Linked DNA regions of Homo sapiens. The protein of the gene in region 1 purifies or fractionates together with the protein of each later gene. This does not show direct contact. Each region holds a gene or a part of one and is shown in the gene's direction. Other genes may lie near its edges.

Region 1 (4,937 bases):
AGATTTACTGTGAACTTGTATAAGATCACTTCCCAGTGAAGGGGAGAGGGGGGCTTGCCCTTGGTGTAGCTTTTCCTGGTATACTTAGCATCAAAAGGCTGAGTCAGAAATTAGACAATTTTGATTTTTTTTTTTCCTGCCTTTCAAGGTTTGGAGTAAGAGTTTTGTTATCTTTCAGTGTCACCCTGTCTCAGCTTTGCTGAGCTGGACATAGAGGAAAAGGCTTCTAGTCTATGACTGGGCTCTAGTTTTAAAGGAGAATCACTGAACCTTGGGCTGGTTACAGTAAGGGACCAAACATCTCAAAGCAGCAGACAAGAACTTTGTGCCAGGAAGTGGGGACTCTTGTGCAGACTTCCACATCTCACATGCACACTGTTCTCTAGAGTCCTTCACTCAAACCTCAGAAGTCTTTTTGTTTTGTTTTAATAAAGGAAACCAATCTCTTTCAAAACTCAGAGAGGGAAAGTGACTTTCTCAAAGTCTATCACCCTGTTAAGCAGCGCTTAACTTAGACGTTTCTCTCATATAAAATTCAAAACACAAACTTCCATATATACAACCCCCTGAGCAGGCAACTAACTATCTAAGCTATTCATTTAGGAGAAGATCATCCATCTTCCAGTAGATCAAGAAGGAAGAAGAAACAGATGATAAAGGGCACAGCATTCCGATTTAAATGGCTTCAGCGAGCCACGAAGATCATTAGACATTATCTACACTCTACGGTTGTCACTCTTTGGTGGCTTGCCTGGGTGGCCGAAATCCTCGCCTAAGGAGCTGACATATGCTGCAGCAGCGCCATTCTCTTCTGCTGTCTTCCTTTGCTATGGAAGCTTTTCAGTGAGGTTTTGATCCCCTTTTATGGTGACACAAGTGAGTTTGTTCCTTGGTTTCCTTTGTTCATTTATTCATCCTTACTTTCTTGCTTCCTTCTTTCCTTCTTTTCCCCCTTCCATACATATTTATTCAGAGTCTTGAATAAAGCTCCTGTCTTCCAGCTTTAGGTTGTCAGATAATAGGTGCAATTGTTTTTTTAATTGGTGCTGGTCTTTGGTAATTTGTATACACGCATGTATACCTAGGCATTCATTAAGAGCAAGGCTCAGGAGTGCTGATATCCCATTGGCCAGGACTTATCACTTGCCTATGCCTAGCAGCCAGGGAAGTAGAGAAATGTTGATTTTTTTCTCTGCAGTCATGTGTCCAGTTAAAATCTAGCACCATTAAGGAAGAGAAGAAAGCAGATACTGGAGAACAGACTGCCACACTGGATTTCCCAGGTCTTTGTTCATTCTCATCTTTATCTGCTTCTCAATACCCTTTGCATCCCTCAAAATTCAGCTCAAATGTCATCTCCTTCGAGAGGTCTGCTGCCCAAAGAGAACCAATCTTTCTCTCTCCTCTGTTACTGTTCCACAATAGCACCTATCACATTGACTTGCAGCCAGTTATTTATGTGCCTGTGACTTCCACTAAATTGTGAAATCCTCAAAGACAAAGACCAGATTGTGCCCATCTCTGCATTCCCAGATCTCCAGAAACATGAGAGATGCTCCAGAAATATTTGTTTAGCCAATAAACCTCCAGAAATAATGGAAGGATATCTCCCCCAAATGAACAAGGTGTACCTTAGAGATCTTTTTCATCTTCCCCCTTTGCCTAATAGAGGCACCCCTATTGCCTGATATAACTCACTTTAGAAGAGAGGTTAAAGATGAAACTCTGAGTTTTCTGGGCAGGGGTCGGGTTGGGGGAAGGATAAAGCCCATACTGGATTCTAATCTTCTTCCAGATGTGGCCTCACATCTGAAATACACTCCCTGTCCTCAGGCATCATCAATGACATGCCATCAGTTCTAACAAGTTCTCATGGAATGCAGTCTTTTTACCCTGCAGGGGCAGAGCACTAGGCTAGGTACAGCCACAAGGGTACAAAGGCACCAAGCAGCAATAGTAAGGCTCCTAACCCCTTAAGTTGTGAAACCAAGCCTGTGGTCATGGGCAAGTCAAGAGCAGTTAATGACTTAAGACTTAAGACTTAAGAATATTCATAAAATTAAAGCAAATAATTCGGATTTCTGGCTGCAGCCACAGTAACCCACTCTAGCCAACAGAAGGGGGAAAAAAGGTCTTTATTTAAAAAAATACAAGGATTTCTTATGAAACTCAAGGAAAGACATGCACCTAAGCCTCAGGTAGTGCTAGAAACAAGAACATGTCCTACTAGGACATTTTATGTGATTTCAAGTTTATTTTCTCTATAGCCAATTGGGACCCATGCTTTTCAAAGTCTGAGTTACGTGATAAAAAAAAATTTTTTTTAGTTCCTTCAGGGAGGAGTGTGTTAGTTTTGTTAATAATGCCTGATAATTGTCCCCATCCAAGGCATGATTTACACGCAATTCCATTTCCAAATTCCCAGGGAAGGAGTTTGATTGGCTCAGCTTGAGTCAGGTGTTCACTCTAGGACCATCAGCTGGATAGGGTGCATGGGATCTCATTGTCTAAAGAAACAAGCTGTTATTGTCACCTACGGTTAGAGAGGTCCGGGAAAGGGTCATGCTAGGAGAGTCCACTACCATCTACCCAAAGCTGTAGTAATAGGGTGGCAACATGGTGTTGTGCTAAGAACATAGAATTTTAGTTCCGCCACTTGATCGCTATGTAGCCTTAAGCTCGCCACTCAACCCTTCTGAGCACCAGTTTCCTTAGCTATAAAATACAGAAAAGAATAATCTACCTTGTGGTGTTGTGAACATTATATAAGAGAACACTGGTAAAGTGTCTAGCAGAGTCTGGCATATGGTAGACTTGCCACTTCCTTCAAAGTCTACAAAGTGGTTAAATGTAAGCATGAATCTTCATGTAGCTAATGGGAAGGGAGAAAGGAGAATCTGTGGAGCAGCGGATCCAACAGAACTTTCTGTGATGACAGAAACGTTCTAGATCTATGTTGTACAACATGGTAGTCACAGGCCATATGTGGCTATTGAACACCCATATTGTAATTAGGTAAGGAACTGAATTTTTAATTTTATTTAATTTTAATTAATGTAAATGTAAACTTAAATAGGCAGCAGCATTCTTTTCTCTTTTTTTGAGACAGAATCTTGCTCTTTTGCCCAGGCTGGAGTGCAGTGGTGTGATCTCGGCTCACTGCAACCTCCACCCCCGAGTTCAAGTGATTCTCTTGCCTCAGCCTCCCAAGTAGCTGGGATTACAGGCACCCGCCACCATACCTGGCTAATTTTTGTATTTTTAGTAGAGATGGGGGTTTCACTCTCTTGGCCAGGCTGGTCTCGAACTCCTGACCTTAGGTGATCCACCTGCCTCAGCCTCCCAAAGTGCTGGGATTACAGGTGTGAGCCACTGCGCCGGGCCAGCAGCAGAGTTCTTAAGCAGTAGTTTCTATCTTGGCTACACATTAGAATCACTGGGGAGATGTAAATACTAATAATATCCAGTTCCTACCTAGAGAGATTCTTGTTTAATTGCTCTGGGATAAGGCCCAAGCCTAGGTGCTTTTTTTTAAAAGCTTCCCTGGGACTTCTACTCTGCAGCCTGAAATTGAGAACCACCAGTAAGGAGAAGGAGGAGGAAAAATGAGGGTTCTGGAAGTCTCAATGGGTTCCTTTTCTGAACTACTTGCATGCAGTAATTAGGCTGGCTAGTCTAGCTTTGGGTTTTACCATGCTTTAGGCAAAGTATTTCTACAGGAAGATTCATGTTAATCAGCGACACCTAACTTCAGCATAGGTGGCTTGGAGAGCCATTTTCCTTTTCCCACATGATCTCTTCTCTTCCCTTGCCAGGGTTCGTGTGAGCCAGGATGGGCAGTTTCTGCACTACATCTTTCCATACCAGTTCATGGACTCTCCTGAGTGGGAATCACTACAGCCTTCTGAGGAGGGGGTGTTCCAGGTAACAGGGAGCCTGGTGGCAGCACCGCCTCACCCCATCCCACTGTAGCCCAGCAATATCCGTGCCTCCATGTTTCCCCTCTTACATCTGTCCTTCGCACCCCTGCCAGTGTGAAGCTACAGGCGGGGGCACTCTTCCTCTGAAAAGAGTTCCTGGGCTCCTAGCCATAGGTGAGGTAGGGTAGGAAGATGCTGGCCCCTGGGTAGACCATGTTACTTGTATGCTTAAACTCTTCTGGAAGACCCTAGTGCCACAACATAAAAACCCACACTTGTTATAGGGTAACTTAAACCTTTTAGTGCTCTCTAGTCGCATTTCCAGCTCTCCCTCCTTCATATTTTTTGCTCATACTAGCCATGCTGAACCACTAGTACTTCCCTAAACACACCACATTGTTTTGCAGCTCTATGCCTTGGCCCCTACTCTCCCCTCTGAAATGCATTTCCCCTTCTAGATGAGACCACGGAACCTCACTTCCACTGTGAAGCCTGCTTCCACCCCACAGCCTCACCAGCTTCCACCCCACAGCCTAGCACTCCTGTGTGCCTGTTCTAGTCCTTTTACTTATGCTAACTGGTGCACATCTTGCTGTCTGTTCTAATAATCTGGTCTCCTTTCTGTCTTCTGCACAGTGAACTCTGAAGTACAAATCTAGGCTTTTCCCTCTCTGTTCCCAGACTCTAAAGGAAAGTACCTGGAGCACAGCAGCTGTTCAGTAAAGAATTGCTTGCCGGGCGCGGTGGCTCACGCCTGTAATCCCAGCACTTTGGGAGGCTGAGGTGGGTGGATCCTGAGGTCAGGAGATCGAGACCATCCTGGCTAACACGATGAAATCCCGTCTCTACTAAAAATACAAAAAATTAGCCGGGCATGGTGGCGGGCACCTGTAGTCCCAACTACTTGGGAGGCTGAGGCAGGAGAATGGCGTGAACCCGGGAGGCGGAGCTTGCAGTGAGCCGAGATTGCGCCACTGCACTCCAGCCTGGGCGACAGAGTGAGACTCCGTCTCAAAA
Region 2 (4,937 bases), on another chromosome or scaffold:
GTTGGGATCCCTTGGTCTGATGTGTCGTCTCTTCCGCTGGAGCCTAGGGCCTGGGGAACCGTTCAGAGCCAACTCCAAGCCCTGATGCGGCTGGGGGCGCAGGCCCTTCCTGGGGAGGCCACAGGGGTGTGGACGGGTGAGGCTTGGCCCTGGGAGATCCCTCAGCCCTGCTGGCAAGTGGAGAAGTAGTGGGGTCCCAGGCAGGTCATCACTGACCCTGCATCCTCATGGGGTGTGCGTGTCTGGCAGCCCCAAGGCCCCGGGGGTCCTGGGTGGTCCCTGACTGAAGCTGATGCCAGGCTGGGTCTTCCCTGCTCCCAAGAGCGACCCTGAGGTGAGCAGGACCCCCTCCCCCGCTGAAGACCCTCCAGAGCATTCTGGCCATGCTGGGCAGAGCCTGGTGGAGGTTTCAGCCAACGGGGACTGGAGGCCGGGCCTCAGCTTTCCAAGGAGTCGCCCCCACTGCACTGGGCCCCTCGCTCTGGGTGGGAGAAGACATTTTGTCTGACTCAGGCTCACTTCTGAAAGCCGCCCGCCCGCCTGCCCGCCTGCCTGCAGGTTCGGGGAGGCCCTGCAGGGGAACCTGGTCATCGGCATGCTGGCCTGGCCCTCCCCCTGGGTCATCGTCATCGGCTCCTTCTTCTCCACCTGCGGTGCCGGCCTGCAGAGCCTCACGGGGGCACCGCGCCTACTGCAGGCCATTGCCCGTGACGGCATCGTCCCCTTCCTGCAGGTGAGTCCCGCACCCTCGTCGGGGGGACCCTGGAAGGTCAGGGTCGGGGGCTCTCCTCCCCTGCGGGATCCTCACAGTGCCGTGTGTGGGACGCATGCCCGCGGCTTGGACCCCATGGTGGTCATTCTGCCCCTGGCCACTGCACAGAGCATGGGAGTGGTGGGAGGTGGGTGGTGGGCAGAGGCAATTCTAGCCCTCCTGCCTGCAGGTCCCTCCGAGCTCGGCCCCGGGTGTGTCAGGAGCGGCTGTGAGGGCCCACAGCCACGTGTCCAGAGGTGCCTGGTCTGTTGTCTGGTCAGAAGCCCTCTGCCTGCCTGCCACATCTTTCTCTGTGTGGCTGAGCTCTTCAGCCCGTGGGAGGTGGCGTCACCAGCCACCTGCAGCCAGTGTGTGTGGCTGCTCTGAGGATTGCACGGACGCCCGCATGGGTCCTGTCCGTGTGCTGTGCCCAGAGCTGCCGATTGTGGCTCCTCCTGCTACCTGGGCCCAGGGGCAGCTGTGGGAAGGTCGTGGATGGCAGAGCCATCCTTGCCCGTCGCTGGTCCCTCGGCAGGGTGCCGACCCGCAGGGCCTTTGTGTGGTTGCATCTTCAGTCCCAGCCGGGCCTAGGGCATGGTGTCCAGGAAGGGGACAGGCACACAGGCCCCGTGGGCCTCAGCTTCTGGGAGGTGAGGGTGGCCTGATGAGAAAGGTCACCACAGGGTCTGGGGAACCGCGAGTGCCCTGGAGACGCTGGTCCTGTGTTGTGTGGTCGGGGAAACTGAGGCGGGGGGGCAGGCTGGGGCCACACAGGTTGCAGGCAAGCCGGGCGTAGGCACAGCTCTGAAGCCTCCTGGGCTGCAGCCCTTTGTCAGGGCTTCTTCCCAGGCCAGCCGCGTGATGTCCCGGGGACCTACTGTGAAAGGCGTTTCTGCTGGTCTGTGTCTTTAAGATTCATCTGGGCTAGACCTGACCAGCCTGCAGCTTCTCTCCTAAAAGGGTGGTGTCATCTGCCCCATCTTCCTGCCCTTCTCCCTGCAGGTGTTTGGCCACGGGAAGGCCAACGGGGAGCCCACGTGGGCGCTGCTGCTGACAGTCCTCATCTGCGAGACTGGCATCCTCATCGCCTCTCTGGACAGCGTGGCCCCGATCCTCTCCATGTGAGCCCCCACAGGACGGGGACCTGGGGATGGGTGTATGGGCCTGGAGCGTGGGGCAGTGTGGATGGGAGGTCCTGCTCAGGACAAGCAGTAGACAGGCATGGCCAGCTGTGGGCAGTCAGGATCCTGCCGGGAAGGGAGTTGCGCCGGGGAAGACAAGTACACAGGCCTCCAGGCAGCCGCCCGCTGGGGTCAGCCAGGGACAGTGTGGCTGGACAGACGGCTGCTGGGGAAGGGACGATGGCCCATCTCTTGATGGACCAGGTGGTCACAGGATGGCTGGAACCTGAGGGGGCCTGATTCGGAATCAGTCTGAGTCAGCTCACGTGCAGAGACAGACATGGGGAGACAAGGCGCAGGTGGGAGGGACAGTGACAAGGGTGGTCTCCCAGGTGGCAGTGACTGGGGGCTCAGGGGGGCCCAGTGGGCCCGTATCAGTGGCCGGCCGTCCCTGCAGGTTCTTCCTCATGTGCTACCTGTTCGTGAACCTGGCCTGCGCCGTGCAGACCCTGCTACGTACCCCCAACTGGCGTCCACGCTTCAAGTTCTACCACTGGTGAGGCCACTCAGCACGGGCGTGAGGAGCCCCACAGGCTGGGACACTGGGTGCCTCTGCCACTGGTGAGGCCGCTCAGCACAGGCGTCAGGAGCCCCACAGGCTGGGACACTGGGTGCCTCTACAAGGCCAGCTGCTCTGGGCCTGAAGACCCCAGCGCGTCCTTGACTGTTCCTTTGCGGAGTAAGCCCCTGCGCAGCTGATGAGACTGCACCTGAGGAAGGCCTCTGGTTACGAGGATGCCCAGGTGTCTGCATGTGCCTTGTACCTCCCGTGGTCAGCCCAGCCTTCCCAGGCTTGGGGCGTAGCCCATCAGGGCTGTGGGTCTTCTTAACTCCCCTCCCCAGGAATCAGGCGCTGGGTGGACGCTTCAGCCCCTTGTTGCATGCACAGCCGAGGTGCTGTGTGCACGCTGGGAGCTGGAGCTATGTACTGGGTTTTGGAGTGACAGCTCCCACAGGGGCCCAGGGAGCCACGTCACCCCTCAGAGGTGGTTGAGTACAGCCATGGTCGTCAGGCGTCAGTGACTGTTTTCCTAGTGTTAACAGAGAGTTTTACTGAGGGAGGGGCAGTGTCCGTGTGGTGGTGGCTGAGGTGTGGGGGCTGCATGGCGTTGGGCCGCCCCGAGCCACTTGCCCCGCCCCCAGGACCCTGTCCTTTCTGGGTATGAGCCTGTGCCTGGCGCTGATGTTCATCTGCTCCTGGTACTACGCGCTGTCCGCCATGCTCATCGCTGGCTGCATCTACAAGTACATCGAGTACCGCGGGTAAGCGCTGTCAGCCCCCCTTACAGACCCGGCGCACGGGAGGGCGGGCCCCTCTCATGCTATGCCTGGGGCAGCTCCCTGGAGGGGCCTCCCTGGGGCTTGAGCGTCGTGTGCCCTCACAGGGGCAGCTGGGAGCACGTCCAGGTGGGCTGTGTTGTGAAAGCTGGGGTTTCCCTCCCACTTCCAGCCAGGCCGAGGTGCCTGCACTTGTGGACAGGGTCTCCAGCCTGGAGCTCTGTCTCGTGCCGTCCTCAGCAGGCGGTGAGCCCACGGCTGACTATTCCTGCTACGTGTCTCGCGAGGTGTCCCCAGGTTGTGTCTGTACTCACTCGGCAGCCACAGGCGTCCTTCCCCGTGCCCCAGCACCCACCCTCCCTCCACCTGCACCCGCCTCGTGCCCGGGGTCCAGCCACTTCCCTGTCATGGGCCTCCTGTCCCCCGTCCTGTGAGGAAGGCACCTCACGCATGCTGGACGTAGACCTCGTTCCCTCCACAGCCACAGCACCCTCTGACCCGGTGGCTCCTAGGACGGGCTCCCTTCAGGGCAAGGGTGGGCATGGAGGCCTCCCTCCTCATCCAGGGACTTTTCCTGGGGGTCCTGTTTGCCCCAACTCACCTGCCCCCAGAAGTCCCCTTTCCCAGGTGGGAGAGGAGCCTCCAGGTACGCGGCTGGACAAACCCCGACTTCCTTTCCCACAGGGCCGAGAAGGAGTGGGGCGATGGCATCCGTGGCCTATCCCTGAACGCCGCCCGCTACGCCCTGCTGCGCGTGGAGCACGGTCCCCCCCACACCAAGAACTGGAGGTGAGCACCGCCCATGCCCCGTGGTCCTCAGACGCACAGAAGAGCTGTTTCTGAGGTCGGCCTTTGAGTGGGGACCTTTGAGTCTCAGGGGCCTCTCACCTTCAGCCGCTCAGGCAAGGTCTGGGGTGTGAACACTGCCTGGTGCAGAGCGGATGGCGCAGCTGGGGGCCGGGGGTGTCCCTGCTGCAGGGTGGGGGTGTGGGGAGCCGGCCCCTCTGCCAGCACAGCCCTGGGCTTGGGGTGGGAGAGGGTGGCTCCTGCTGAAGCAAAGGCCATCTTTGGGAAGCCTCTGCCCCTCAGGGCCTCGGCGGGGGCCTCAGGTGTGTGCCCCGGGCCATTGTCCCCTCAGGGGCCTCGGCGGGGGCCTCGGGTGTGCCCCGGGCCATTGTCCCCTCAGGGCCTCGGTGGGGGCTTCAGGTGTGTGTCCTGGGCCATTGTCTCACCTGTCTAGCATGTCACCTGTCCCACCTGTCTAACCTACCTGTTCTCCTGTCCTGCCTGGCTAGTGCCCACCTGTCCATCGGCCCTGCCTGTCCCACCTGGCTTCTGTGGCCTGTCTCACCTGTCACCTGTTCAACTTACCCCACGTGTGTCACGTTTCCCCATCCCATCTGTCACCTGCCCCTTTTGTCCCCTGTCCCGCCTGTCATGTATCTCCCGTCCCACCTGTGTCGTGTGCCCCGCCCGTCCCATCTGCCCTGCCTGTTGATGGGCCGTGCCCTGGTAAGCGTTGCCGTGGTAACAGCCGCCCCACCCTGGCTGCAGGCCCCAGGTGCTGGTGATGCTGAACCTGGACGCGGAGCAGGCCGTGAAGCACCCCCGCCTGCTGTCCTTCACGTCGCAGCTGAAGGCCGGCAAGGGCCTGACCATCGTGGGCTCGGTGCTGGAGGGGACGTACCTGGACAAGCACATGGAGGCTCAGCGGGCCGAGGAGGTGG

What was found. The genes of interacting proteins can lie anywhere in the genome.
Region 2: the proteins of POPDC2 (region 1) and SLC12A7 purify together in Homo sapiens (affinity purification with mass spectrometry; 2 studies listed by BioGRID and IntAct, with this or other methods). This does not show direct contact.

The regions. Positions count from the first base shown.
Region 1 is NC_000003.12:119,653,492-119,658,428, reverse strand, and holds part of POPDC2 (popeye domain-containing protein 2), read left to right. Parts: intron 1-3,815; coding exon 3,816-3,924; intron 3,925-4,937. UniProt on the Homo sapiens protein: Important for the maintenance of cardiac function.
Region 2 is NC_000005.10:1,073,629-1,078,565, reverse strand, and holds part of SLC12A7 (solute carrier family 12 member 7), read left to right. Parts: intron 1-558; coding exon 559-733; intron 734-1,753; coding exon 1,754-1,872; intron 1,873-2,329; coding exon 2,330-2,428; intron 2,429-3,075; coding exon 3,076-3,195; intron 3,196-3,894; coding exon 3,895-3,999; intron 4,000-4,764; coding exon 4,765-4,933; intron 4,934-4,937. UniProt on the Homo sapiens protein: Mediates electroneutral potassium-chloride cotransport when activated by cell swelling. May mediate K(+) uptake into Deiters' cells in the cochlea and contribute to K(+) recycling in the inner ear.